Linked DNA regions of Homo sapiens. The protein of the gene in region 2 purifies or fractionates together with the protein of the main gene of each other region. This does not show direct contact. Each region holds a gene or a part of one and is shown on either strand. Other genes may lie near its edges.

What was found.
Region 1: the proteins of CCN5 (region 2) and AMZ2 purify together in Homo sapiens (affinity purification with mass spectrometry, with the first as the bait; one large-scale study listed by BioGRID). This does not show direct contact.
Region 3: the proteins of CCN5 (region 2) and THAP12 purify together in Homo sapiens (affinity purification with mass spectrometry, with the first as the bait; one large-scale study listed by BioGRID). This does not show direct contact.
Region 4: the proteins of CCN5 (region 2) and UROS purify together in Homo sapiens (affinity purification with mass spectrometry; one large-scale study listed by BioGRID and IntAct). This does not show direct contact.

What each region holds. Positions count from the first base shown.
Region 1 is NC_000017.11:68,244,338-68,252,935, reverse strand, and holds the start of AMZ2 (archaemetzincin-2), read right to left. Parts: upstream 4,894-8,598; 5' UTR 4,231-4,893; intron 2,751-4,230; exon of another isoform or gene 2,749-2,750; coding exon 2,466-2,748; coding exon of another isoform or gene 2,456-2,465; intron 2,143-2,455; coding exon 1,969-2,142; intron 1,887-1,968; coding exon 1,758-1,886; exon of another isoform or gene 1,549-1,757; intron 1-1,548. UniProt on the Homo sapiens protein: Probable zinc metalloprotease.
Region 2 is NC_000020.11:44,711,206-44,719,892, reverse strand, and holds the start of CCN5 (CCN family member 5 isoform 1 precursor), read right to left. Parts: upstream 4,525-8,687; 5' UTR 4,503-4,524; coding exon 4,443-4,502; intron 3,269-4,442; exon of another isoform or gene 3,100-3,268; intron 1-3,099.
Region 3 is NC_000011.10:76,355,326-76,363,285, forward strand, and holds part of THAP12 (52 kDa repressor of the inhibitor of the protein kinase), read right to left. Parts: intron 5,739-7,960; coding exon 5,631-5,738; intron 330-5,630; coding exon 293-329; intron 1-292. UniProt on the Homo sapiens protein: Upstream regulator of interferon-induced serine/threonine protein kinase R (PKR). May block the PKR-inhibitory function of DNAJC3, resulting in restoration of kinase activity and suppression of cell growth.
Region 4 is NC_000010.11:125,812,534-125,816,758, forward strand, and holds part of UROS (uroporphyrinogen-III synthase), read right to left. Parts: intron 3,993-4,225; 5' UTR 3,967-3,992; coding exon 3,904-3,966; intron 3,728-3,903; coding exon 3,644-3,727; intron 2,598-3,643; coding exon 2,501-2,597; intron 1-2,500.

The DNA.
Region 1 (8,598 bases), on a different chromosome or scaffold from region 2:
AATTAAAGTAAATACAGTTTGGGGAAATGTTTCCTGACCTCCTCAAACACATAAGATAAGTTAGCTAGCAATATCTAGATAAACGAACATATGGTTTTAAAATTATTTTTTTAGCTGGGTGTGGTGACTCACACCTGTAATCAAAGCACTTTGGGAGGCTGAGATGGGAGGCTCGCTTGAGCCCAGGACTTCAAGATGAGCTTGACCAACACAGGGAGATCCCATCTGGCCAAAAAAAATCCCATCTGGCCAAAAATAAAATAAAATAAAATAGCCGGGTGTGGTGGTCCTGTGGTCCCAGCTACTCGGGAGGCTGAGGCAGGATGATCCCTTTAGCCCAGGAGGTTGAGGTTGCAGTGAGCCATGATCACACCACTGCACTCCAGCCTGGGTGACAGAGGGAGACTCTGTCTCAAAAGAAAAATAAAAGGTAGATAGAATTATTTTTCAATGTTTCCATCTCTATCAGGTTAATAATAAAAGAGAAAACTTATGATAAAAAGCTACCTCACACCACCAAAATCAGTAAGAAAGTAGTGACCCACGTCTCCAAGAGTGCATGCTGGTAGGGCCATGGGGGCCACAAGAAACCTCACATAAATGGAGAATAAAGAATAAAGGAGTAAGTGGGAAGAGGCTCTATAACCCTACAGCCCCCACCTCTAGTAGAAACATTTGTCCCAAAAAGCTTACCACCCCACACAAATCCTAAGGCTAATGTAACATCCAGACAGACCATAAACTCTCAGGATAGTCCCTGTACTTACTCCCCATCCCCAGAACACTAATGAACCACTCCCCTTAGGGGGCCTTTTCCCTTTCAAGTCTGTGTTGGATTCTTAGGGATGAAGTTAGAGAAATAAGAACAATAATTAAGGGGAGGGGAGAAGTAGAGAGATGACAAAAAAAAAAAAAGGTTAAAAATATGACCGGTTTGCAGAACCTTTCCCATCCCTAATATTACCATACAGAGTTCCTAATGAGTCAAGGTTTATTACATATCTCAAATCAAAGATGGACGTTTTGACTCTTTAAATTAAAAAACAAATGTCGTATGATGAGAAAGAAGCATACACTTAGTCTATGGCTATTCTAACTGTGCAAGATGACTATGAAAAGAATTGAAAAATAATTAGCAAGATTTTCACATCCATTGATAGCTCAAACTGTAATTGGTTTAATTCACCTTGCTACTGAATTACTGACATTTACTAGCTGTTATGCTGTATGCCTATATATATGCCAGGCCTATATATACATTTTTTTTTTGAGACACGGTCTCACTTTATTGCCCAGGCTGGAGTGCAGTGGCTCGATCATGGCTCACTGCAGCCTCAACCTCCTGGGCTCAAGCAATCCTCTCACCTCAGCCTCCTGCGTAGCTAGGACTACAGGTATGTGCCACCATGCCCAGCTAATTTAGTTTTTTAAATTTTTATTTTTTTGTAGACATGTGGTCTATGTTGTCCAGGCTTATCCACACTTTTTATGTACAGGCACTTTTATGTAAATTATCTCCAAATGACTCCATGATGTGGGTATTGTTACCTTTAAGGTCCTGTAGGTAGTGAGTGGCCAACCAGAACCTAGATTATCACAATCTACCAACAGCACACTTCCCATTATGGCATAATGTCTCAACTGAAAATATTTTAAATATCAATATGATTCTTGGTTGGAATTTTTTCCCTCTTCTAACATCTTCAAATATTCTCAAGCTGAAGAAGCTTCTAACAACAATGCCAAAAACGGAATACCATCTGTCAAAGAGGCCTGTCCAAAGACAAAATTCCACGAGTCTCTTGGGTAAAGATCAATCATTGTTATTCCCACAACACAGAAGGCATCTTCAGGTTTCTTCTTTTTCAAGAACTTCAGGATGTCCCCTATTTAAAAAGAAATACATAAATGTATGAGTGTATATTATATACATATACTCAGTTCGAATTGCAAAGTCGTGTAATTCACCTGCATGAATTTGTAGGTTGTGTGTGTTCTCATTGACTCTAAAGGAACATCTTGTTACAGAAACAGGAACTGGTTCTAGGAGTTTTACTCTCAAGCCATAGAAATATGCTTTACAGTAGCCCGTGAGCCATTTAATATATTCTTCACTGATAATTCTGGTGTTTCCTAGAGAGCCTACAATATGGAAGAACATTTAAAAACAGACTTTAAGATGATTATTCAGTGTTTACCCAGTCTATGAGTAAGAAGATTCAAATTAGAAACAAAACCAACTCTAAATTTTCAATAACCTTTATCATTCATTGGTGTTGCTATGAAACAAAAAGAAACAAAATGTTATCTTTTAAGTCAGTTTGGCTACAAAACTTGTACCGCCGCAATGAATATCAAAAACGATCCTAAAACGGCCCATCTGAATCAGACCCATAGCCTGGACTATTCCTGACAAGAGCGCCACTGCAAAACTGAACCAAAACCAGCACATTACCAGTATTTACCAATGGACTGTATATAAATGCTGCGTTTGTTTGGAGAGGGTGTCTTTCTGTAAGGATCACTGAAGAACTGTTCAAAGTCTTGGGGAGCCTCAGGGTGGGAGGTGATCCAATCTGATGGAGAATGCAAGGTAATGGGTCCAAAGAGATCACTGGCTGGCTGGAAGGCTTCATTCATTAAACGTTGTTCCCCAGCATTTAATTTCTCATACTGTGATACAAGCACTGGGTTCTTTGAGATGAGAGCTGTTTTTAGTGTCTGTTCGGAGTGCCGTATTATTTGCATCTAACAAAAAAAAGCAAGTAATCAAATATAAAAATACATATCTACATTGGGGACTTTACCTATCCTCTATATTTCAGCTCTGATTTCTCCCTAGAGTGAAATGACTGATTGCTAATGCTTTAGAGTGGTCACACTTAGAGTGGTTTCCTCATGTCCAATTTCTTGGAGATCTAAGAAATTAAAAAGACAATCATGAAATCCATTCCTCCATCTCATATGGAACCTGCTCCCATTACAAAAACTAGTGGTGGCCAGGTGTGGTGGCTCATGCCTGTAATTTCAGCACTTTGGGATAGGAGGATTGCTTGAGGCCAGGAGTTTGAGAACAGCTCAGGCAACATGGTGAGACCCTGTCTCTACAAAAAATTTAAAAATTCCCTGGGCATAGTTGTGCACATCTGTGGTCCTAGCTACCAGGGAGGCTGAGACAGGAGAATCACTTGAGCCCAGGAGCTTGAGGCTGCAGTGAGCCATGACTGTGCCACTGCACTCCAGCCTGGGCAAGAGTCCAAAACAAAAAAAAAAAACCTCACGGTGACCACAGGAGCAGGACCTCACACCCAACTTCCTTCTTTTGGGGAATAATATTGGCCTGGCACAGTGGCTCACGCTTATAATCCCAGCACTTTGGGAGGCCAAGGCAGAAGGATTACTTGAGCCTAGGAGTCTGAAATCAGCTTCGACATCATGGCAAAACCCCATATCTACAAAAAAATTAGCCGGATGTGGTGATGTGCACTTGTAGTCCCAGCTACTTGGCAGGCTAAGATGGGAGGATCATCTGAGCCCAGGAGGTCGAGGCTGCAGTGGGCCGTGATCGTGCCACTGCAGTCCAGCCTGGGCAATAGAGACTCTGTCTCAAAAAATAATAATATGAATTAACTCATCAGTGCCACATGAAAAATACTCATCGTTTCTAATGTGACTCAAAGATCTTCAACATCAAATAAAAACAAAACTAATGTAAGCCCTATCATTTCTGCAATTTAACTGCAGGCTGAGAAACTACAGCTTAGCCACTGAAGTTTATGGCCTCAAAGTCATGTCACATTAGGGAAGACATCAGATGACTAATCAAAAGCCAGCCTCACAATGACAGGTTTCTTCCATTCACATCGTGTTCCTATATAGAGCTTTCATCCTTCCTCTTGAATGGGTCCGATGTTCCACCACGAGGCTTTTTGAATTAAGGAAAAAGTTGAACATCTCTGTCTGGATCATCTTTGTCATATTTTCTAATTATTTAGATTTTGCCAGTTTAATGATAGACGATTGATGGGAAAACTTAAGCTAATGTCTGTTCTGATTGAACCTATAAATTCTGGGGTTGAAGAGGCTGACTAAAATTCCAGACCAAATGTCTCTGTACTCAAAGCTCTGATATAAGCATAGGCTCATCCTCACTCCTACACAACTGGGCTGAAATCTGACTTCTACAGGACAAAATATAAAACAAGATGTACCTTCCTGTAGTCTACCTACCTTGATTAGGAAGGAAGGCTCCCATGGAAGCTTTTAACTTACAAGGACGGACATGTCTGGGCCTGGCTGGAAGAAAGTTGTGGAGTGTGACTTCATCTTAATATTAAAAAGGCAGTGTGAAAGGTCAGGAGGCCTCCTCTTGCCTCCCAAGCCTAATCTAGGGAAGCTGCGGGAGAAGATGGGCAGGGGGCGCAGAATTCGGTCACTGCAGTGGGCTGGAGGCCTAGGATGCTTTGGTCCCAAAACCAGAACATCACGGGCAAACGGGAAGGAGCTGGCCACCCTGGCTGGTTGCCTATAGCAACTCGCACTGTGGGCTCTGGTCCATGCAGACACAACCCAGTCTCCAGCTGGGAGTGGAGTGGGGGTTCCCCAGGGACTCTCGCTTCGCCTCTTCTTCCCCAGGAGCCTCGGGAAAGGCCTCCCTGGCTCCCTAGAGGCACCGACCCCGCGGACCCCGCGGCTTCCGCCACGTCCGCCCCTCCTACATCCTCATCCCGCTCCACCGACCGCGACCGGCCCCCGCCTCTACGACCCGGCTACCCTGCCTAGGGGCCCCGGCCCAGCTCTGACAGCACCCGCGAACCGCCCTGACCCGACAGGCCTCGATACCACCCACCCGCGGCAGCCCTCACGCGCATGCGCACCGCGTCCCTTCGCACTGCGCCACGCCACGCCCACTGGCGCCACGCCCCTTACGCCACGCGCCGCGCCGCTGCGTCGCGCACGCCCTGTGGGCCCCGCCCAACTCACGACCCACCCATGCCACGCCCCTGAGCGTGCGGCCGCCTGGGCAGGCGCAGAGCTGGAGTTCAGCGGCCGCGACCCGCCTCTTCCAGAATAGAGGGTAGCGAGGGGACTACAAGCCCCAGCTGTCCACCCCCGCAGTCGCCGATTCCTCGCTTGCGCTCGCGGCGGCTCCGCGGCCCGGTTCTCGAGAGCCACAGATGCGCCCGCGTCGCTGGGGTCTCCCGTGTGGGAACGTCCTCGGCAGGCCGCGGGTTTGAGAGGCATCGCCGGCGTGACGAATGCAACCAGCGTGGCCCCAAATGAGTCGGCGGCCGCCGCAGGTTGACGTAGAGCCGCAGCGCTCCCCGGGGCCGTCACCCTCAGCACTTTCCCTTCTTTATTTGTTGGGGGCCGCGGGGGCTGGAACCCAGAAGCGCAAGTGTGGGGCGCGTCCTCGTGGCGTCCCTGGCGCTCCGAGGCCGAAACCCGGATGCTGAGGGGAGGCCGTGAGCTCGGAAAGGCACCGCGGGGCCGGCATTAGGGCTGAGCTAGCTCTGTACCCTCTGGTGGGACTTTCGGTCTCTCTGGGCCTCGCCATTCTCTTTCTTTTTCTTGCTTTTTTTTTTTTTTTTTTTTTTTTGGAGACGGAGTCTTGCTCTGTTGCCCAGGCTGGAGTGCAGTGGGACAGTCTGGGCTCAGTGCAACCTTTGCCTCCTGGGTTCAAGCGATTTTCCCGCCTCAGCCTCCCCAGTAGCTGGAACTACAGGTGCCCGCTATCACGTCCGGCTAATTTTTGTTATTTTTAGTAGAGATGGGGTTTCACCATGTTGGCCAGGCTGGTCTCGAACTCCTGACCTCAAGTGATCCGCCCGCCTTGGCCTCCCAAAGTGCTGGGATTACAGGCGTGGGCCACCGCGCCCGGCTTTTTTTTTTTTAATACGGGTTTTCACCCTGTTACCCAGGCTGGTCTCGAACTCCTGCGCTCAGGTGATCCACCCCCCCGCACCCCGGTCTCCCACAGTGCTGGAATTACAGGCGTGAGCCACGGCGCCCGGCCTGTTATTTTGAAGTCAAGCTATTTTACCATCCTCTGGATTTTCGTCATCCTAATTCTCCTTCCCAGTCTCAAGGAAAGACAGGCACATTTTCTTGATGACTTCAGCATTTGTAACCCCTTGTTGGCTCTCCTTAGAGGACATTAACTCTGAACCTTTCAACTTCGAGGATCTCTTTAGCCCTTCCTTATTTGTTCACTCTCCTGGATCATGAATTCTCCAAATTTGTCCTTTGAACCCAGTGCCCATATCCACCCTCACCTGAACCCATTCTTGAATAAAATGCATTCCTACCATGACTGTTCTCAAAGTTTGAAGTTGAGAATACCGATGCGCCACTCCTGCTTCAATGCTTGAGAAGTCGTGGGCTTTCTTCCATGTGCCTTTTGACTGGGCGCCTATCTCCCGACAGCCTGAGGTGGTGTAGCATAGGGGCGAAGGTGGTCTGTGCTTGAATCCCAAAACCCTCACTAGCGTGGGACCTGTGTCAACTACTTGACCTCTTTTGTAAAACGGAGACAATTACAGCACATCTTTTTTTATTATTATTACTTGACACGAAGTCTCGCTCTGTCATCCAGACTGGAGTGCAGTGGTGCGATCTCGGCTCACTGCAACTTATGCTTCCTGGGTTCAAGCGATTCTCGTGCCTCAGTCTACAGAGTAGCTGGGACTACAGGCACACACCACCACGCCCGGCTAATTTTTTTTTTTTTTTTTTTTTTTGTATTTTTAGTAGAGACAGGGTTTCGTCATGTTAGCCAATTTTTGTATTTTTAGTAGAGACGGGGTTTCACCATGTTGGCCAGGCTGGTCTTGAACTCCTGACCTCAGGTGATCCACCTACTTCGGCCTCCCAAAGTGCAGGGATTACAGGCGTGAGCCACCGCGCCCCACCTACAGCACATCTTAACAGAATTTTAGGGATCAAATGAGTTCCTTTGGATACTGTGCCTGTTTTTGACTGAACAGCTGTCTTCTGACATCCTGAGTGGCTTCTTTAGCTTAGTTGTCACCTCTTCTATAGCCTCATCCTGCCTCATGACAAAACTTTACTTCTGCCTGTTCATTGCCTTGTGTGTACATAATAATACTGCAGTTGTCCTTGTCACAATGATTGTAACCTATTTCTTACATGTCACCCTTACTCAACTGCGAGATGCTTGAGGGTAAAGACTCTCTATACGAGGTGTCTGAAGCATAAAAGGTATTCACTAGATTTTCAGTCAGTTTTTTGGTATTCATTAAAAAGAACTTCATTTTGCGTTTAAACTGTTTAAATTTCTAAATCATGAACTTTGTACTTGCTCACAAATTTTAGGATAGCATTATTTCTGCATGGTCTAATATTTATTTTCTTAAATAACTGACCAGGCATGGTGTCTCATGCCTATGATCCCAGCACTTTGGGAGGCTGAGACAGGAGAAAGGAGAATCACTTGAGCCTAGGACTTCCAGACCAGCCTGGTCAACATAGGGAGACCCCATCTCTAAAAAAAAAGAAAAAAGAAAAAAAAAAAGCCAGGTGTAGTGACACATGCCTGTAGTCTCAGCTACTTGGGAGGCAGAGGTGGGAGGATGGGTTGAGCCTAGGAGATCGAGGCTGCAGTCAGCTGTGATTCACAGCACTTCAGCCTGGGCAACAGAGTGAGACCCTGTTCAAAAAAATAAACAAATAAACACCTTAGTGCTTCGGGGGGGTTAGGTTTTTTTTTTTTTTTACATTAGAAGGAAAAGACACTTTCTCTTACTAAGGTATTTTTGCCTGTTAACTAATATGCAGTTGCAGAATGAACCATAGTCTGTCTGCATTTCAAAGAGCACTACAAGTTCTGATATTTAAAATGAGTGTATATGCCAGTGGCCCAAGGTTGGAGAAGAAAGTTGGTAACAAATTGGAAGGTGGCAGAAAGCAGGAAAGAAATGTAACATATATGGCAGATGAAGGGTTTTAAAATAGCTTTTACAAATCAGCACAGAAAAGATAAACACCATGACATAAAAATGAGCAAAAAATATGAACCATATAACCCGAATGGTCCATTAACATCCATGTGTTCAACTTTACTGAACACATGAATGAAATAAAATAAAAAACACTAATAATTTTTTCTTACCTGCTAATTTGGCCAAGCTGTTTGTTTTGAAATAATTTCTAGCTAAAAGAAAAGTGGCAAAAGTAGTATAAAGAATCCCTGCATTCTCTTCACCCAGATTCCCCAGTACTTAACATTTTACCTCATTTCTTTATCATTCTCATCCTTTTTGTGTCTTTATCTCTGTCTCTATATGAAAATATACATTGTTTTCCTGAACCATTTGAGAGTAAATTACAGGCTGGGCGAGGTGGCTCATGCCTGTAATCCCAGCACTTTGGGAGGCTGAGGTGGGTTGATCACTTGAGGTCAGGAGTTTGAGACCAGCCAGGCCAAAACGGTGAAACCCCGTCTCTACTAAATATACAAAAATTAGTGGGTCATGGTGTTGCATGCCTGTAATCCCAGCTACTTGGGAGGCTGAGGCAGGAGAATTGCTTGAACCCAGGAGGCGGAGGTTGCAGTGAGCTGAGATGACATCACTGCAC
Region 2 (8,687 bases):
AGAGACAGAGACCTCACTCAGCCACGGGCTTTCGAGGTGGGCAGTGAGACCCTCACAACCAGCCACTTCTCTGCCAGGCTGGGTAGTGTGGTGTCCACACCTTAGCCTCAGAGCCATGCAGACCTGGCCTCAAAGGCCAGTAGTCCCACAACATGCCCTAAGAGGCAGTATGGCATGTAGTTATGGGCAAGGACTCTGGACTAGAGTTCCAGTTCTTTATTTTTTATTTTTATTTTTGGAGTCAGAGTCTGGCTCTGTTGCCCAGGCTGGAGTGCAGTGGCGCGATCCCAGCCTCACTTCAACCTCCACCTCCTGGGTTCAAGCGACTCTCGTGCCTCAGCCTCCCGAGTAGCTGGGACTACAGGCGCCCACCACCATGCCTGGCAATTTTTGTATTTTTAATAGAGATGGGGTTTCACCATGTTACCCAGGCTGGTCTTGAAATCCTGAGCTCAGGCAATCCGCCCGCCTCGGCCTCCCAAAGTGCTGGGATTATAGGCATGAGCCACTGCACCTGGCTAGACTTCCAGTTCTAATTCTGCCCCTTATTAGCTGAGTGACCTTGAGGAAGTTACTTAAGCATTCTGAGCCTCAGTTTCCTCAAAGTATCTAACTCAGAGGATTGCTCTGAGGAGTACATGAAATGCTGCACAGCAAACCCTCAGCACAGGGCCTGGCATGCAGTAGGCGCTCACTGCACTTAGCTTTGATGATCCTTGTTGTTAATGGTGGCAGAGGGCTCAGCCCCAGCCCTCTGGGAGCTTACAGAAAGGCAAAAGCAACAAGTCAAGGATGAAAATGGTAGGGTCTGGTACATTTTCCAGCATACGGATACTTATCTTAGGACTGAATAAATTGAACCATATCATGGATGTTTTTGGCCTTTCGATCCATTCAGCATGTGTCCCAGCTCTGGAGGTACATCACATCAGCCAGGAGACTTGGGAAAATACAGACCCCCAACCCACTCTGGGGCTTACAAAATCAGAAGTCCCAGAGTCAGGGACCTGGAATCTTTATTTTTAATAAGCTGTCCAGTGGCTTCTGAAGCTCAGCTAGGTTTTCAGCACCTCTGCCCCAGTCTAACCTCCTCCCCCTGCCAGGTACGGATGGGGAAACTGAGCTCCAGAGAGGGACAGGAACTTAGCACACGTCAGTGTGTTCGATTCAGGGCTGGGAGCGTCCCCGGTCCTGCTTCCCAAGTGAGGACTCAGGGACACGGGATGGGGGTAGACTGTGTCCGTAAGCCAGGGACCCACTCCCCAGAGACAGGATCAGGGTATCAGCCCATGTGGCCTGCCTGACCCTCGCCACCCACATCAGAGAAACAACCAAAGCATACAGCAGGTGCCGTGAGCTCCCTGTCTGCCCATTTGAAGGTGGGGACCAAGAAGGAAGTATAATTCAAGATGCTTCCAGTGGCCCCATCTTTGGGGGGCCAAGTTTGAGTTTAGTAGGATCCTTAGGGGATGAGGGTTTCATCTAGAGGAATGGAGGCTTGCAGTTTATAATGATGGAATTAATGACCTCATATCTCCTGTGCAGCCCCAAAGCAGGCAATGACCCCTTTGCTCTGCCTCACCCTCTGCCCCGCCCAGTGCCCCCACTACCCACAATCCTGCAAACCTGCTTTCAGTTCCCGGCAACTCCCACGCCGGCCACTAGGAGCCATTGCAAACTGGCTGACCAGCCTCTGGTGGGGGCCACAAAGTAGGAGGCGATCACAGCCCCCACTGAGACAGCACTGAGTAGCAGATGGACACACGGAGCTAGGTGTCTGGCTGCCTCACAAGGGAGTGGATCCCATCGCTGCAGGCTGTTCAGATTCTAGAGACGATGGCCTAGCCTCGCCCCTCAAGGTGTGGTCTGAACTAGCAGCAGCAGCGTCATCTAGGAGCTTGTCAGAGAGGCAGCATCTGGAGCCCCTCTATAAATCCGAAGCTGAATTTTTATATAATAAATCCGAATCTGCATTTTCTTTTCTTTTTCTTTCTTTTTTTTTTTTTTCTTTTTTGAGATGGAGTCTTGCTCTGTCACCTAGGCTGGAGTGCAGTGGCACGATCTCGACTCACTGCAACCTTCGCCTCCCAGGTTCAAGCAATTCTTGGGAGGCCTCAGCCTCCCAAGTAGCTAGGATTACAGGTGCATGCCACCATGCCCAGCTAATTTTTTGTATTTTTAGTAGAGACGGGGTTTCACCATGCTGGCCAGGCTGGTCTCAAACTCCTGACCTCATGATCCACCCACCTCGGCCTCCCAAAGTGCTGGGATTACAGGCATGAGCCACCACGCCCAGCCCGAATCTGCATTTTCATAAATCCACAGGTGATTCACATAGAAACGGTCTAGGCTTTTGGGTTCCCTTCTAAGTCAGAGGTTCAGCTCCCTTGGCTTGTGGGCAATGGAGGGAGGACTGTCAGAAATGACTCTCAGGTCCCTCCCACCTGAAAACAGGAGTGCCAGGAAATAGACCAGCAGCTGTGCACCTTGGCTCCCACTGTGGACCCCTCTACTGGCCATGCTTGTCAGGGGGCAGGACTCTGTAGGCCCCGATACCCAGGAGAGGCTATTAATGATATCAACTATTCTAGTGTACAATTATCTCATGTGATACCATATGTATGTCATGTGCCAAGTGCTGTTGTCTCATTTACCCCTCCAATGTGAGGTGCCATCATTATGCCCATTTTAAAGATGAGAAAACTGGAGCTCAAACCGTGTAGTAACACAGCCAGTAAGAGACAGAATCAGGATTGACATCCAAGTTCAAGTTGACATCCAAGGCCCAAACTCAAGTTGTCCCATTGTGCCTCAGTTTCCCCAGGGCCTTGCTGTGATATCTGGTGGTGGGGGGCAAGGCTCATGATATCTGGGGCAGGAGTACTGGGCATGGAGTTTTTTGGGCAAGAGTTGAGATTCAAGTTCTGCCAGTGACTTGCTACGTGACTGAACATGTGGACAAACGGCTTTGGAAGGTGGAGGTGAAGCTCAGTTTTCTCCTCTGTAAACTGGAGTAGAGACAACCTGTTTCTGAGTGATGATGGAGATTAAATGAGGTTCTGGCCAGTCCTTGATCAATGTGATTTTGCTTGTGTCCAGGTGTCTGCCTCCTGCCCCGGTCCACAGCCAGGAGCCCCGGAGCCAACGGCCAGCCTGGAAGACTTACAGTTCTCCCTCTGAGGGTTGCTGTGGCTTTCCATGTTGTGGTGACTAAGTCCCTGTGTTTCTGTGCAGTCCCTGCTTCCTGGGACCAGGGAAGAATGGTCCCGTAAGTCTCACCCTAATGGCAAGTCTAGGACAGCTTTACTTTGTTCTCGTATAATCCTGGGCCCCTTCTCCCTCCTAGAGCCCCAAGTCCCCTATTCCAACTACCCAAGCCACCCACACTGGCATCATGCCCTACCCATCCCCTTTGGAAGAACAAACAGCAGGACAGGATGCCAGCGTGGTTCTCAGGCTTCCCAGGCACGAAGACTTGGAGCCTGAGGGAGAGAAGCTCCTGCCCGTGCTCCTCAAAGGAGCGTGAAAATACAGTGAGATCGTGGCTTGTGGTGGGGCCGATTCCATGGCTCTGGGAACTCAGCATTTGCCGAGGGGATGACAAGGCTTAGCAGCTGTGGCCTTGGTCCAGTTTGGGCTTGGGGAGGCACAGACTGGAGTGCTTCTCCCCCTACATCCATGTCATTCTGGGCTCCACCATGGCTCTCCTCTATTGCTCTGACCTTTCTTTGCTGTGTGGCTTTGGGCAAGTTGCTTACCCTTTCTGAGCCTCACTTGACTGAAAACTGGGGTTGCAAGTTGCTTACCCTTTCTGAGCCTCACTTAACTGAAAATTCCTTATGGGATTGTTGTGCATGTTAGACAAGGTAGATGTCCCACAGGCTCTTTGGTGAATGTCCCATGCAGCATTCAGGGATAAGGCCATTACTCCACAGAGGTGTCTCCTGTTCCCCTCTAGCTAGGGCGGGCGGGTCACTCACTGCCTAAGAGTCCAACAGCATTGATGCCCTTGCAGAATGAACCTTCCAATCAGCTAGGCATCCATCCAAATGCTGGCTCAGAGTTAGGCCAAGCATGTCATGTCTTGAGTGCCCCCATTCATAATGAGGATACATTAAAGTCCTCTTCAATTTGCCTGGTAAGTTTGATGAATGATCATGAATGGTCTTCACAGAGGCCTCACAAACTGTATACCCTTCACCTGGGAAGATGCTGAGGCCCAGAGAAGGCAAGACACATATCTGAGGTCACACAGCAGGGCTGGCCGGAGGCAGCTCTGAGTTCCAGGGAGAGAAGCCCTGCTTAGGCATGGGGGCCAGACTGTGCCCAATGTGGGGCCCTGGAGGAATTCTGCCAAGGGGGTCCTTGGCTGCGATTTTACATCCCCACCCCCTCCACACCCAAATAGTCAGCAGTGCATTCCAGGGCCCGGGCCTCCTTACCTTTGAGAGGAGGCAGAGGAGGGAGAAGGCCAGGAGGTGGGTCTTCGGTGTGCCTCTCATGTCCCCTGCAGAGCCAGCTTTGAGCCTGGGAGGCGGACCTGTGAGTCTTTATGTTCCGGCAGCTGTGAGGTCACTCCCAGGCACACACAGGCACACGCACGAGTACACACGCGCGCGCGCGCGCGCGCTCACACACACACACACACACACACACACACACAAACACACTAGCTTTTTCATTCCTTGCTTCGCTTCCCATCCTCATGGCTCAAAGGATGAGCCCATTTACCTGAAGGTGAAACTGTGAAGGCCACCAAGGGGGTGCCTGTCCGTGTGTGTGTGTGTGTGTGTGTGCGCGTGTGTGTGTGTGAAAGCCTGAGCCAGTGCCAGCACCAAGAGCCTGTGACAGCTTGCAGAGGCCTCTCCAGCTCCTTCCAGCCCAAGAGGGTCCTAGCCCTGCTGTAGTTGTGAAGCCCTATTCCAGACCCCCTGTCCGAACCCCAGCGGGGCTGCAGATACCAGAAGCATTCAGTAAACAACCCCTTTGCAGAGCTGACCCAAGGTCTCCTAAGCTCCGTGGCCCTGACTCTGGGTAGCCGCGGCCCAGCCTGCGGTTTCTGGCAGGCAGATTGGCAGCCACCCAGAGGTGGGTGTGACCCAGAGCAAAACTTCCCTGGGCGGCCTGTTTGCTCTTGGCAATAAGGGGCCTCCCTTGGCCTGCCTCCCGGCTCTGGAAGGGGGCCCGTGGTGGGCGAGTCCGGGCAGGCTGGACCTACTATGTGCCAGCGCTTGCTGGGCACCGCTAGATGATGGGGTCAAGCCAAATCCATTTGGTTTCATTCGGCCGCCTCTGAGTTCGCCTCTGCAGGAGCTGGAGGCACAACACTGACCTGAGGACAAGGCCCAGAGAGGGAGAAAACAGAGGGAAAACAGGTGGAAGTTCAGGAATACCAGGCAAGGTCCCTTGCTCAGACCAAGAGTGAGGGACACTTTCTGATGGAGGTGCCATTTCAGAAAGCCAAGAAAAGAGAGGGTGAGAGAGGGCAGAATGTTCCAGGCCAAGGGAACAGTACGTACCAACGCCTAGATGTCGGACATAGCATGATAGCCTGCTTATTCTGGGAGCCAAAGCGCCTGGTATGAGTGGAGCCTTCTGTGCAACGGGAAATGGTGATGTCTGTGAAGGGTGAGACACACAAGTTCACATCACCAAGATTTGGGGACATCTACTATGTGCCAGCCATGGGGGCGGGGGACAGAAAGACATGGGCTTTGTTTGTAGAATTTGGCAAAGATAAAAGAGGTGATGTCAAGGGCTGTCTGGGGCCCCCATTACCTCCACCAGTAGTTGTCCAAACCTCAAAGTGATCTAGCTGGATAGCAGAGGTTCCAGAATGGGCGATTGGTGAGGAAGAAGTGTGACTTGATATAGTGGCAAGACGGGGATTGTGAGCATGGAGGAGATTCCCCACGGGTGCTGTCCCATCGGAAGAGGCAATGGAAACGGAAGGTGAAGATGAAAGTGTGGGATTTGATTATTTATGGCAGGAAGAGGTGGCCAGGGTGGAGATGGGGGTCTGGAAACTTGGAGGAAAAGAAACAGAAGGGATCTTTTAAATTTTGTTTTATTTTTTGGGATTCTTGTGGAAATGCTAATGTTTTAGTCAGAAGCATGCCTAGAATAATTTACATCCACAGTGGATCATTTTTAACACCCCTCTTCCTTCATAGTACAAAATTATTTTCAGTAATAATCATGAAACAAAACAAATATTTTTCATGTATGAATTAAAATTTGCACTTACCAAACAAAATCATTACCATTCACAGTTCACACTGTTTTACTCTTTTAAAAACTGTAAATACAAATCAAAACTCCAAGTAGTTTCGTAAAATGACAAAATTGAAATACCCTTATCGTCATCTTTCCCATCATTCTGCGTTCATAGTTGATTTCACTCTACTGTTTAAACACAGAAATACAGCTGGGCCGGTGGCTCACGTCTGTAATTTGGGAGGCCAAAGTGGGAGAACCACCTGAGATCAGGAGTTCAAGGCCAGCCTGGCCAACATGGTGAAACCCGTCCCTACTAAAAAAAAAAATACAAAAATTAGCCGGACGTGGTGGGTGCACACCTATAGTCCCAAGTACTCAGGAGGCTGAGGCAGGAGAATTGCTTGAACCCGGGAGGTGGAGGTGGCAGTGAACCGACATCTTGCCGCTGCACTCCAGCCTGGGCGACAGAGAGAGACTCTGTCACACACACAAAATAATAATAAAAATAAATGCAGAAATATGAATGCTGGACGGTGGAGACAGGAATGCATTCAAAGCAAGCTTGGAAGATTCCAGAGTTGTGAGGAGCTTACTCTCAACTGATGTGTGTTCCTGAGACCACATGCTCTGGGGGCAACTATAGGATTCTTAAAGTTCTCCAAGTCAAGTTGACTTCCATGTAGAATATGTTTATTAAAGGATAAGAATAAAAATGTGCTGATTTGAAGCTTTACATATACATTATTAAACCCCAACAGTTACTGCACCAATTGTTAGAACTTAGATCAATAAAGGGTATTTTCAGGACAAAGTATTTTACCACTGAAATTATTTAGATCTGCCATTGCACAGTGATCATAAAAGCAGACTGACTTCTCATCAGTTTTATTTTATCTTTAAATTCTGTAGGCCCCCCACCCGTTATTGCCTGCATCCAGGAAAGGTCACTCCGACTTTCCTGTCCTCCCTAGGCCACTGATATTAATAAAAATAAAAGCAATTGTGTATAGCACCCAGCAAGATCCAGCCCTTGTGCTAAGCACTGTTTATAAAAAGCAGCATTTCTAATCCTCATGATCCACATCTCAATTGAAAAAAGTGAGGTTCAGAAAGGTTAAGTAACTTGCCTAAAGCTACACAGCTAGAAAACAGAGCCAGGTTTTCAGTGCGGGTTCATATGACTCCAACACCCAAGTTTCAGTTTTTGATGCTGTTTATTTCTGCTACTGTCCATAGAGCTCTCTGTGATAATGTTTTTTAAGTTGAGAGGTAATGTATATACAGAAAAGTGCTTAAAGTGCACTAATATGAAGTGTAGAGCTTGACAACTCTTTCTTTCTTTCTTTCTTTCTTTCTTTCTTTCTTTCTTTCTTTCTTTCTTTCTTTCTTTCTTTCTTTCCTTTCTTTCTTTCTTTTTTTTGAGACAGAGTCTCACTCTGTCTCCCAGGCTAGAGTGCAATGGCATGAACATGGCTCACTGCAGCCTCAGCCTCCTGGGTTCAAGGGATCCTCCCTCTTCAACCTTCTGAGTAGCTGGTGGCATGAGGCAGCATGTTTGGCTAATTTTGACTCTTGACATATGTATATACATGACTGTATATACCCATGTGATAATCACCCAGGTCAAGCTACACTTCCAGAAGTTTCCTTATGCCCCTTCCAAGACTCTACCCTCTGTCCTCCAGGTACCCGCTATTCTGACCTCTGTGGCCACTGATTAGTTGTTCCTGAAAGGAACAGTTTTAAGCCACTTCTATCTCTGAGGCAAGAAGGAAGACGGGAGAAATGAGGAGGTGTGAGGAAGAGAGTTGGAGGGAGACACGCTGGTCCCAGCCATGTCCATAGCAGAGCAAGGAGACCTTGACAATGAGGAGGTGAGGTGGGCCATGGGTGCCACGTATGGTGAAGAAGACAGGGCCATACGGGGCAGGGAGGTGGCAAGAACGAGGCAGAGTGCTATGCCCACCTAGGGCCCTCTGAGTCAGAGCATGGATTTTTCTTGGAACTTTTTCTGTCTGATAACTGAGGATGGGAAAGTGTGGGCAGTAGGGGCCCTGGGGCCTGGCCAGATCAGGAAGCAGGCGTCATCATCAAGGGTGTTTGGTGATGAAGTGTGAGGGATGGAGCTTGCACACACAGTTCAGCATGAGTGGGTGTGGCAGGAGCGGTGGGAGCTGCCACTTTGCTGATTGGTTTGCTGCGGTTCAGCCCTCCCTTCAAACTGTCCAATTTTGGCACCAGAGGGATATAAGCATCCAGGGAACCCATGAGTCTTTTGGCTGCAGCCGCAGCCCCCACACAAGGGCCCAGGGTGAGTGTGGCTGTCCTTTGCTTTCCCAGGAGGAAGCACAAGCTCAGAAGTCAACAGGTCCGAGCTTCAAATCCCGGCTCCCGCTACCGACTTACAGGGCTGGGACCAGGGTGAGGTGACAGAGGCATGTCGGGTATAACATTTAGGGAGGCTCTCA
Region 3 (7,960 bases), on a different chromosome or scaffold from region 2:
TCCCTACAATGGAGCACTGTGTGCCTGCCACCCCTACCACACTGAGAGAGGAGGCGTCACCTCCATGAGGCCTGCATATAGCATAGTGTGTGGCATTGCAGCACTCAATAAAGACAAACTAAAATTAGACTTTAGTCTCATAGATAATTCCAAAACACAGGACAAAATTGAGCACACTCCTACATTCATTCTCAAGGTAGGTTTTCAACACAGAACATATTTATTTGTCCTTACCAGGTCAAGGCCTTTTTAAAAGGCATTCAGAAGTTGAGTCATTAACACTATCACTTACTTTTTTTCTGTTTCAGTGTCCTGATTTCATCTTCACTCTAAATGTCAAGAAAAAAAAAGAAAAAAACAAATCATCTTTAAAAAACTGACCTCTAGTGTATCATCTTAGACTCACAAATACAAATGCCTATTCTGAGTCAATTTAATTCTTTCAAGAGCATAAATTCTTTATATAGTACACATTCTTCAAACAAACAGACAATGAGAAAACCAGAATAAGCTGTTAATGACTCCAAGGTTATAACAAAGTCTTAGGGAAAAAAGAATACATCATTTTGCTTATTTTCTACCTAAATCATCGTAACTTTGGGTTATAAGTGTTTACTGGCTAATGAAAGGCACAAAAATACACCATGGCACTTGGAGTTAAATTCAAGAGGACACAAATCATCTTACTTCCCAATTTAACCCTGGAGATGTCCCATAAGAAGGAGGTTGCTGAATCTCAGGACTCAACACAAAAGTGATGAGAAATCCCTGAGAAGCAGAAGGTGAAAGTACCAGCATGGAAGAGATACACAGAGCATACACAGAGCATAGTAGGCCAAGTGGCACCAATAGGGTTAGACAAAGGAAGAACTTTCCAGCTGCATCCTTTACTTTCCTTCCAACCCTCTACAATGCTTAAATCATGAGCCACCTGTTACTTTCTGTGGCAGAAAAGCAGCAATGCCAGTGACAGCTGAAGACAGCAGGATGCCTGTTGGGCAGCACTGGACATGGTGCTGATAACAAGAAACATCAGCAGGCTGGTCAACCTGGACATCCCCTCCTTATCCTACGGACTGCACGTTTATAAGGATGGTGGGTCAGGAAGAGTATGCCTGCTGTGAGATATGTGAGGCTCTCTGAGGGACAGACTACAGGGAAATGATAGCTACAGGACAGCAAGTGATTGAGCTCCTCATCCTGATACATATTACACTTCATATCTATGGATTTAACCAACCATGCATTGAAAATGCTGGGGAAAAAATGGATGGTTGTATCTATCTTGAACATGTACAGACTTTTTTTCTCATTCTTCCCCTACATAACGTAGCATAACTATTTACATAGCATTTACATTGTAGTAGGTGTTACAAACACATAAATGTATTAAGTATCATAAATAATCTAGGTATTATTTGAAAATGGATGGTTGTGCCGGGCATGGTGGCTCACGTCTGTAATCCCAGCACTTTGGGAAGCTGAGGCGGGAGGATCACCTGAGGTCGGGAGTTCAAGACCAGCCTGACCAACATGGAGAACCCTCGTCTCTACTAAAAATACAAAAAGAGCCGGGCGTGGTGGCACATGCCTGTGATCCCAGCTACTCGGGGGGCTGAGGCAGGAGAATTGCTTGAACCCGGGAGGCGGAGGTTGCGGTGAGCTGAGATCGCACCCTTGCACTCCAGCCTGGGCAACAAGAGCGAGACTCTGTCTCAAAAAAAAAAAAAAGAAAAGGATGGTTGTGTCTATACTGAACACACAGATTTTTGTTCTTGTCATTATTCTCTAAACAATGTAACAGAACAACTATTTACATAGCACTACATTGTATTAGGTATTATAAATGATTTAAAGTCACGGGAGGATGTGTGTAAGTTATATGCAAATACTACACCACTGTATATAAGGGAATCAAGTATCTGTGGATTTTGCTCTCTGAGGGAAGCTCCTGGAATCAGTCCTCCATGGACACCAAGAAGAAAGCTGATATGGAGGACTGTAATGTAAGTGTCAGTATTCATCTAAGTCCCAGGAAAATAGAAATAAACAAATAGAGGGGAAAATGCATAAAGAAAAATAAAAACTAAGGATTTCTCAGAATTTAAGGTGTAAGTCCTCAGTTGTAAGATGACAAATTAAGGTACATAAAAAAAAAACTCACATCTAGATACAGGTTAGCAAATTTTAAAATGTCAAATATAAAGAAACCTTCTAAAAAGCTTTGAGGGAGAAAAGAAGATTACCTAAAAAGGAACAAGAATCAGGCTGGCACAGACTTGAATAGCAATAATGGATGCAAAAAAATCAGAAAGAATCAACATCACATAGACTATATGTATCCTCTACGTATCTCTTAATAACATTTAAAATTTAAAATATCATATAGCAATTAAAAATAATTCCACATCTGGAAACTAAGAAAAACAATCCTATGTTAACAAAATAGAGAAATTACAAAATACCTACAGCCAGACATGACAACACTATATGTCTAAAGTTGTAGGGTATAGCTAAAATGGACCTAAGAGAGACTTTTATAGCTTTGAATACACATAAATATGAGCTAAACATTCAAGAAGCTAGAAAAAGAGTCAAAAAATAAATCACCCTAATCAAAGAAAAACCAATAAAATAGTTCATAAGTACAACAATCACTGACAAAACTACTGGTTCTTTGAAAAGATTATTAAAGTTTCATAAACTTTTAGAAACATTAACAAAACACAAGAAAGAAAGAAAACCAATAAAGATAGCAGAATGGCAATCAAAACTTTCCCTCATCCACCGCAAGCCATCTAATGGTTTTACCAAGTTCTACCTTACTTTCAAGAGCAGATAACATCTACCTACACAAATTTTTCTAGGAGAAAAAAAAAAAAAAGATACCCAACTTATTTTATGAGGCCAATAGAACCTTGATATTATAACTGGGTAATAAGAGTACATGAAAAGAAGGCTACAGACCAAGATTCACAAATGTAAAATCCTAAATAAAATATTGACCAATTGAATCCAATGGTATATAAAAGCAAATAGACATATTGCAGTCAACTAGAGTTCATTACAGAAATGCAGATGGTTCACAGAAAATCCATTAGTATTACTTATTGCATTAAAGAATGAAAAAAATGAACTTGTCTATTAAATACATGCAATGAAAGCATGTGATAAGTTAAATATAAAAACAGAATATAGGTCAGGCGTGGTGGCTCACTATTGTAATCCCAGCACTTTGGGGAGCTGAGGTAAGAGGACTGCTTGAGCCCAGGAGTTTGAGACCAAACTGGGCAACATGGCATGACTCCATCTATAAAAAAAAATACAAAAAAATAAGCCAGGCATGGTGGCACACACCTGTGGTCCCAGCTACTTGGGAGGCTGAGGTAAGAGGATTGCTTCAGCCCAGGAGGTGGAGGCTGCAGTGAGCAGTGTCTGCCCCACTGCACTCTGGCTTGGGTGACAGAGTGAGACCCCATCTTAAAAAAAAACAACAAAACTCTGAATATGGGAGTAGAAGGGAATTTCCTTAACTTGATAAAAACTATCTAACAATACCAACAGCAAACATTATACTTAATGGGGCAAGGCAAGTATGACATTACTAGAATTGTTCAACATAGTACCAGGGATCTTGACTAAACAAGACAGGCAACAGAAAAAATTAAAATAATAAGAACTGAAAGAGACAAATTTCTCCTTATTTGCAGATGATACAATCAGTAACAGAGGAAAAACTCAGAAGACTTACTAGGATTAACTTAAAAAGAAGTTCTTCAAAAGTGCTGGAAACAATTTCAACCAGAATATATCATCTATACCAGTAAGAACCATAATGTATTTAAGAAGTGATCTAAGAATGCATACATTCTCATTTAAACAACTGTAACAAAAGCTCTCAAAATTTTTCGTTTTCTGTACTCCTAAAAGTATTCTAATATTCTTTTCAAAAAACTAGTATTTAGTTTTGTCAATGATTGCTGTTATTTGATAGGTATTTTATGGGATTTTTTTTCTCTTCATGGATAGAACTAGTTAATACTTTACAATAGTTTATACTGTAACAGTAAACTAGTAATATTCGTTTACTAACAGTAATACTAAACTAGTAATAAATTTACAATAGCTAATATTGTAAAGATGTCAATTCAAAGCAATTATAATGAAAATCCCAAAAGAAGTTCTAGGAGAACTTGACAAAAGGACTTTCAAATTCATATGGAGGAGGCCGGTGGCTCACGTCTATAATCCCAGCACTTTGGGAGGCCGAGGTGGGCGGATCACTTGAGGTCAGGAGTTGGAGACCAGCCTGGCTGACATGGCAAAACCGCGTCTCTACTAAAAATACAAAATTAGTCAGGCGTGGTGGTGAGCGCCTGTAGTCTCAGCTACTTGGAAGGCTGAGGCAGGAGAATTGCTGGAAACCGGGAGGTGGAGGTTGCAGTGAGCCAAGATCATGCCACTGCACTCCAGCCTGGGTGAGAGTGAGACTCTGTCTCGGGGGGGAAAAAAAAAATCCATAGGGAAGAATAAAGGTCCACAAATAGTTAAGAAAAAGAAGAGTTAAACAATCACCTTATTTGAAAGTAAGATATATTACAATGCCATGGTAATAAAACAGTGTGGTATAGTTGCAAACAAATAATACAGTGAAATGGAACAGAACTCCCCAAAACAGCCTCATGTAAACTTGTTATATAACAGAGGTGGCATTTTATACCAGTGGACGAAAGGAAGAACTAACAGACCATGTTGGGAAAACAGTTTCTCTATAAGGAGAAAAAGTTATTATAGATCCCTACTGTACATCATACATACTAACTCCAAATGGATAAAATATCTAAATAGAAAGGTAAGCATAGAATAAGGAAAATTAGATAAATGCTATCTTTAAAAAGCACACAGTAGGTGGACTGATAGGACATATATTAAATACACTAGCATGGACACCAACTGGTAGGGAAAGGAATGGTAATGGTAATAGTGGGTGAAGAAGGAAAAATAATAAAGCAAAATAAGGGCCTTGCTAGTGGCAATGATGACAAAAAGCCATGGACTAAGGAGTTACTGTACTTCTGTTCACCTAAGGTCAACAAAATACAGATAGGTGTCAATCCTCAGAACTGAAGGATATCCAAGGAACATAAGAATATGTGTAAATTATGCCATATACAGAAATTTCAGTGTTTTTTTCTAAACCCTGTACATATTTAATAGTGATAGAAACCTTATCTTTAAAACATTCCATGTCTCCACTTTTACACTTTCCCTTTCTTTATTCCTTTGTGCTGAACTCTGGAAACACCTCAGCTCTATTTTCCTTACTATGAAAGAAAAGGTAGCTTTTTCCTTCTTCTCCAGAAGGGAATGAGCTAGTGGCCTGTAATTAACAGCACACTCTGGACCAAGTCAACAAGTATCAACTGGCTAACTCTGAGGGAGATTTTCCAATTTAAATACTAAAACTCATCATCTCACATCTAGGCTATTTAACAACCATAACATTTATTTCCCGTTACATTACCTCTGAAATAGAGAGTAATTTGGATTAATTTTAACATAAATGCATCTGTATTTGATTTCATAGTATTATGGGGGAAGGTGGGAAAGCTGAAAGTACATAGACATACCAGTTCTTTTATTCGTTTTCTGTGTCTACTATGTGGGTTGTTCAAATGACTGGTAAGATCAAATATTGTTGGTATTGCATTATCTCGAAGAACTGTCCTATAAGGACTCTGAAAAAGAAAATTGTGTTAATTCAGAGATGGTCCTTATAAATATATTACACATCAATAAAATTCTATGTTAATGACCTCCACAATATTCCTTCAACTCCAGCTCTAAAGTATAGAGACTTACAGAATTTGATGTCAGTTCAGGTCAGTCTACTATTTCCAACTGTGCCTGCATTTGCCCTTCTGGCAATCTATTATAAATTAAGAAACTGAATTGAAGGTAGGCATAAAATATAAAATGTACTTGCATTTTGCATATCTGTTTCTAATTCAGCATCCCAGCTACTTTATCTGTACTGTCCTTCCATGAGCCCACCAAATCTACAGGAGGTACAAGTCTCCCAAAATAATCTGCACTCTTGTATGTTCCATAATAATGCATCCCTATTTTACCTAATGTTCCACTTTTGCTAATATTACTGAGAAGCATCAAGGCACAGTGAAAATATTGGACTGGGACCCAGGAGACCTAGGAACTAGTCCAAACTCTACCAGTGAGTGACTCACTAAGACACCCTGGCTAAATTACTTTCCCTTTTTGGGCCCCAGTTTCTTTTTCTGAATAAAATTCTGGTATTGAACTAGATCAACATTTCCTAAAATGAAATTATTCACATACTAATGATCACAATGCTTGCCATTTCAGTTATATTACCATCTGTATTTTTACACAATCTACTCATTTTTTAGTTAACACTGTCTTAAGTAATAAAACTGTAGGAAGAATGATCTGATGTTATCTTATGTTTTTAAAAAAGTTTTTAAACATGTTTTTAACACATACTACAAAACTTCTAAAATAAAAATTGATTCATCTGCCACATGAAACCAACTCTCACGCCACAAGTGATACTGATATACATAATCACATTTTTGCAAATGCTAATCTAGGTATTTCTGTATCTCTTTCAAGTCCTAATCATCTTATGAAAGAATGATCATACTCTACCCTACTTCCTGTTAATTTCATCCAACTTGGCTAGAAGCTGGATGCATACTTAGATGGTAACGGTCCTACTGCCAGCCCTGAGGAGGCTGAGTAAAAGACAAGAAGCTTATTAAGAGGGACAGTAATAAATAACTGCTATTACACTCCCCTCAGACAGTCCAAAGAATAGTGCCTTTAATTTCTTCCTGAATTTGGAATGATAAAGATAAGACATACTTCATTTAAATAAGCTTTCTTTGAAGCAGTGATTATTTCAAAATATCTAAGCATGCTCAAAGAACATGCCAAACAAAAATAACAACTTCTAAATTTGTTCACCCAAGGAAGGGAGGTTGGGAAGACATGAAGGGAAAACATGTATCTAAATGGAACACACTATCTTGGGTTGTACCCAAAGAGTTGTTAAACACATTTGGGATGAATTTCTATTCAGAGTCAATATTTTCTAGTTCAATTCCATGCCATAATAGAAAACACAAAGATGATTCTCTGACTTCCTAGTAACACTCAACTTCTAGTGCTGGGCTCGTGATCCTGAGTCTACTAGGGAGGCTGAATGAGGAATTGGTTAGGGACACAATCACTGAAGGGAGTACAAGTTATTATATTCAAAGCTCCCCCATCTTTCACACCGAGCAAATGTCCCCAAAATAAGCAAAAACACATACACAGTCAATTCTTGATATCTTACTAATTATTAAATAAGGAGGGGAGGAATAAAACATTTTAACAAATTTTTAAAAGTCAAATCAAATTGATTTTCTATTTGCAAATAAAGCAAAGATATTATAGATCAGAAAACAGAATGTATGAATGAAAAAAATGACATTTTACAAATATTTATTTTGGCCAGGAATGTTGGCTCACACCTGTAATTCCAACACTTTGGGAGGCCTTGGCCGGGTAGACGGCTTGACCCCAGGAGTTCAAGACCAGCTTAGGTAACACGGCAAAACTCCATCTCTACAAAAAATACAAAAATTAGCGAGGTATGGTGGCATGTGCCTGTAGTTCCAGCTACTTGGGAGGCTCAGCGGGGAGGATTGCTTGAGCCTGGGAGGTCGGGGCTGCAGTGAGCCATGGCTGCGCCACTGCACCCCAGCTTAGGCAACAGAGTGAGACCCTATTTCAAAAAAAAATAATAATAATAAAAAATATAAATATCTATAAGGACACATGCCAAAAAAGACAATATTCAAATACTACGTATGATACCAAGTATCTCAGTATCAAGATTTAATCTTTAACTGCTGAATTAAGGTTTGAGCATAAA
Region 4 (4,225 bases), on a different chromosome or scaffold from region 2:
GTTGGTACTAGAAGAATTTTAATGGGAACCACGAAATCAACATAACTTGAAGAATTAATCTGCATAGTGAAATCAAAAATTTAAATCTAGACTTTTAAAGAAAAAGACACTGGTCATTTAAAAAAAGCAACTTAAATGTCTAACAAGGAAATCCAATTGGTTTATTTGGGACATAAATCTGAAAGCAGTCAACAAACTGTAATCTCAGAGGAGAGGGTTCATTTATCCATTACACCAAAGTAAAAATAATAAATTTCAGGTCAATTAACAAACACAATTTGATACAGAATATTATCATTTTATGATCAAACAAAATCTTTAAATATAGATTAAAGAAACACAAAGAGAAAATGGATTGTATAAATATATCATAAAGCTACTGGGCATTCATTACATTTTTAGAAAACAGGGAAATAATGGTTCTTCCTTTCCAAAATCTGGTTATGAACATAACTTTCCCTTAAATTCAAGAGCATTCCTCTACCCTTTACATTAAGGGAAATTCCCTTTGAAATGGTAACCAAAGATTGAGTTCCACTTTGCTTCCTACCCCATAAATATCAATAGTATTTATTCAAAAGTTATCCATAGCATGTAAACAAACTACTTTCCAAGCCTCACAGCAGAACAACTGGAGTGAGCACTGGGTGGAGTCAGAAAGCCTTCCACAGAGCCAGCTCTGCCCCTTAACGTGTGTGTCCCAGGTAAGTCAGTTAACGCACCTCGTCTGTTTCTTCATCAAGGTAACTGGGATTAACTACACTCCTACTGCTTATTCCCTATGGTTGTTGTGAGAATCAAAATAAGAAAATACATGGGAAAATGCATTTTAAACTTTATTATAAAGCACCAGAAAGAGTTATAGTGACCTTTCTAGGGTTTTCCTCTTTTTCATTATCTTCATCCTCAAAACATACACAAAAAGAAAAAATACAACTGCAAGAAAAAGCACCCAGAGCACCACTGGGAAAGAGTACACATGCTTCCCCATCTAGCGTATAATGGCACAATCGCGGCTCATACAACCTCTGCCTCCTGAGTTCAAGTGGTTCTCGTGCCTCAGCCTCCTGAGTAGCTGGGACTCCAGGCATGTGCCACCACGCCCAGCTAACTTTCGTATTTTTTGGTAGAGATGGGGTTTCACCATGTTGGCCAGGCTGGTCTGGAACTCCTGACCTCAAGTGATCTGCCCACCTTGGCCTCCCAAAGTGCTGGGATTACAGGCATGAGCCACTGCGCCTGGCTGGCTCTGAGTTTCTTAGGTTCTCACGCTTTCTTTTCAACAAGAGGTGAATGTGTGTATGAAATCACCAAGAAGGTGGGATGTTTAGGCTACAGCGAAGCCTGGTTAAATGTGGAGACAGAATAACCAAAACTCACCACTGTCACTTACTCCATGCCCACTCTGCTCCAGGTAATGTCCTGGATGCTTTCCTTTGGGACTCAGACTCTGCAGCTTGAATCCTGCACTTGTGCTTTACACATTGTGGGGGCCTGGAAAGTTCCATACCCTTTGTTCTCCAGGGTCCTCATCTGCCAAGTGAAAATACTAAGCACATCTATCTCACAGGAAAAAGTATTCAGGACAGAGTCTCGCACAGAGTGAGCATTCAGTAAGTTCTACCTAACTAATAGTCTACTGTTAGTAGATAATCCCATTACTATTAGTAGTAATCCCATGATGAGAGGTCAAGGAACTCATTAATGTCCAAATGGCTGCATAAACCCAGGACTAACTCACTCCAAAGCCCTTGCATAACCACTCTGCCCGCTGCCTCCGCTCATCAGTGTAACTGTGGAGGTGGGTGGCCCGAGTGTGAGGCCTGGCTCTGCACTGACTTGTTCTGTGCTTACTATCCTGGCCTCAGTTTTCTCAATGGTAACATAAGACATAAGATCATAGCAATGTGTGCCTCTGGATTGTTATCTAGGGTTAAGTGGGGTAATGAACGTGAAGTATTCATTACACAGGGTCTGACATACAACAGGCACTCCATAATTGTTAGCTAGGAAGCTGTTCAATTGCATTTATTAAGGTGTTTGCTCAGGCTGAAACCCAGGGTTCTGTTAATGGGCACTGCCATTTTCATACTGTTCTAATAGTGAGGGACGGAGGTGGGAAGACAAGTCAAAGAGGTGACTGGGTCACTAAGTGCCTGACATGGTGGCACTGACCATTTTCTCATAGTTAGATTTTTTCATCATCTCTCTTTCAGGAAAGTAGTATTTATCCTATTTTCAGATGATACCTTCTAAGGGGATATATCAGTCCCTAGGAGGTGAACAACGAATAGACAGGGGAAAGTCCTCCTCAGGGTCATCTGTCTGGGAGTTTAGGAGATAGCCCTGTTCTCCTGTTTCCCAAGGCAGAGTCTGTGACCTGATACCACTAAGCACTCACTTCTCTTAGAAGTGCAGCTGCTTCTGGAATTTAGTCTCCCAGCAGGAGAAATAAGAGTAAATAAATGTCCAGTGGAATCCACAGCAGACCCACCCTCACCTTCAGTTTTATTGTTTTGCTCCAAACATAACTCTGCTGCTTCCACTGCTCTGGGGCTGGTAAAAATGAGTCCCCCGTAATCTTCAGGATGAGAAAGCTGCACACCAAAAAGCAATAAAGACATTTTATACGATGGCTATGTTCAACATCTTCCAAGGAGCTAAGACTCAGAATTCCAAATGCTTCACAATAGTAGTAGGCAAACTAATTCCTTCCACCCATCCCCCCAACACTTACTGAGTGCTTACTATGTGCCTGGAACTATTTATTCTAGGACTTTTAGGGTACACAGGTGAATTCCTTATTCCCAGTATTTCCCTCAGGAAGCTCAGAGTCTAGGGCAGAGACAGTGAAACACAGGGTGATAAGTGCACTGCAGCACAGAGGGGAAGCCTGACGCAGCCTGGGATTAGAGTGGGGTGCAGGTAGTGGGGGAAGACTTGACCCGAATCTGTAATAAAAATGGGAATATTCAGGGGGTGATATCAATGCTGAAGTCCTGATTTTCAAAGAGGATAATGGTGATATCATCTACCGAACATTTACTCTGAGCCAGGCACTAGGCTGCTGTACATATCTGACTTCACTGAAGCTGTGGGCACTGAATTTTCACTCTGAAGCATTTGGAAGGCTTTACTGGACTTGTCTCCTGCAATTTTTATCACTCCTCACTGGAAGAAGAACTGAAGTTGTGGGCAGAAGCCCTGGGTTTGAGTCCCAGCCCTGTCTCTTACTTGCTAGAGGTCTTAGCTGAGTTGCCTAATTTGAGACCCCAATCTCTAAAACGGGAAAATAATACCTCCCTGGCCTGCTTTGCAGAAGTTGGGGGTGAGGGGTAGATTAAATGAGAGGATGAGTGAAAGGGTTCTAGGACTGCTGAGAGCAATGCAGGTTTGCTGCTCTCACCATGACCTGCTCTCCTGGGCCCCAATCTCTGAGTCTGGGTGGCTTTCTGGAGGGGCTGATAGAGGCTCAGTCAGAACCTCCCAACAGCAGCAGCCTCCTGGAGCCAGGTGAAGTTATGCTGCCATGTTTTAAAGTTTGGGAATAAAATAAGAAGACAGTAAAATAGTCCCTCTCTGGCTTCAGCTGGCAAGGGAGAAATCAAACACTAACATGGTGCTCAGTCACAACAGGCCTTACCTTCTCAGAGAAACTGGGAAGAGACAAAAACTCAAACGATAAAACAGGGATCAAAGTGGCTTCAAGTCCATATAATCCTAATTCCTGAAATGAAAGAATATAGTTCTGGATTGGCTAGGGCTGTTTTTAAAATAAGGGAACATTAACAATTTATTCTGCGTCAGTTCCTCTGAGGTTTTGCAAAACCCATCCCTGCCTGCTCCAGGCCCCTTGACTCAGTAGAAAGGACACTGTGGGATAAGGAGTCTCAGGCCACTTACCCTGATATACGGATCCTGGCCACAGTCATCTTCCTTCGCATCCTTCAGTAAAAGAACCTTCATTATTGCCTGGCAGTCCTTATAGGGCACTGCGACAGAGCAAGGAAACAGATCTTAATTAGATCTCAAAGACTCTTCCTAAGCAATTTCCGATGGGGACGGTACACAAGAAGAAGGCAATCAAATGCTTGTGGAAGAGACCTATCCCTCCTACACCATGACTTAGCACTAATGGGCTTGTTCTTTCTGAAGACCCCTGTCACTGATAAGGCCAAGAAAGAGCATGTTAGCAGTTGATATCACTTGGAAAGACAGATGAAAC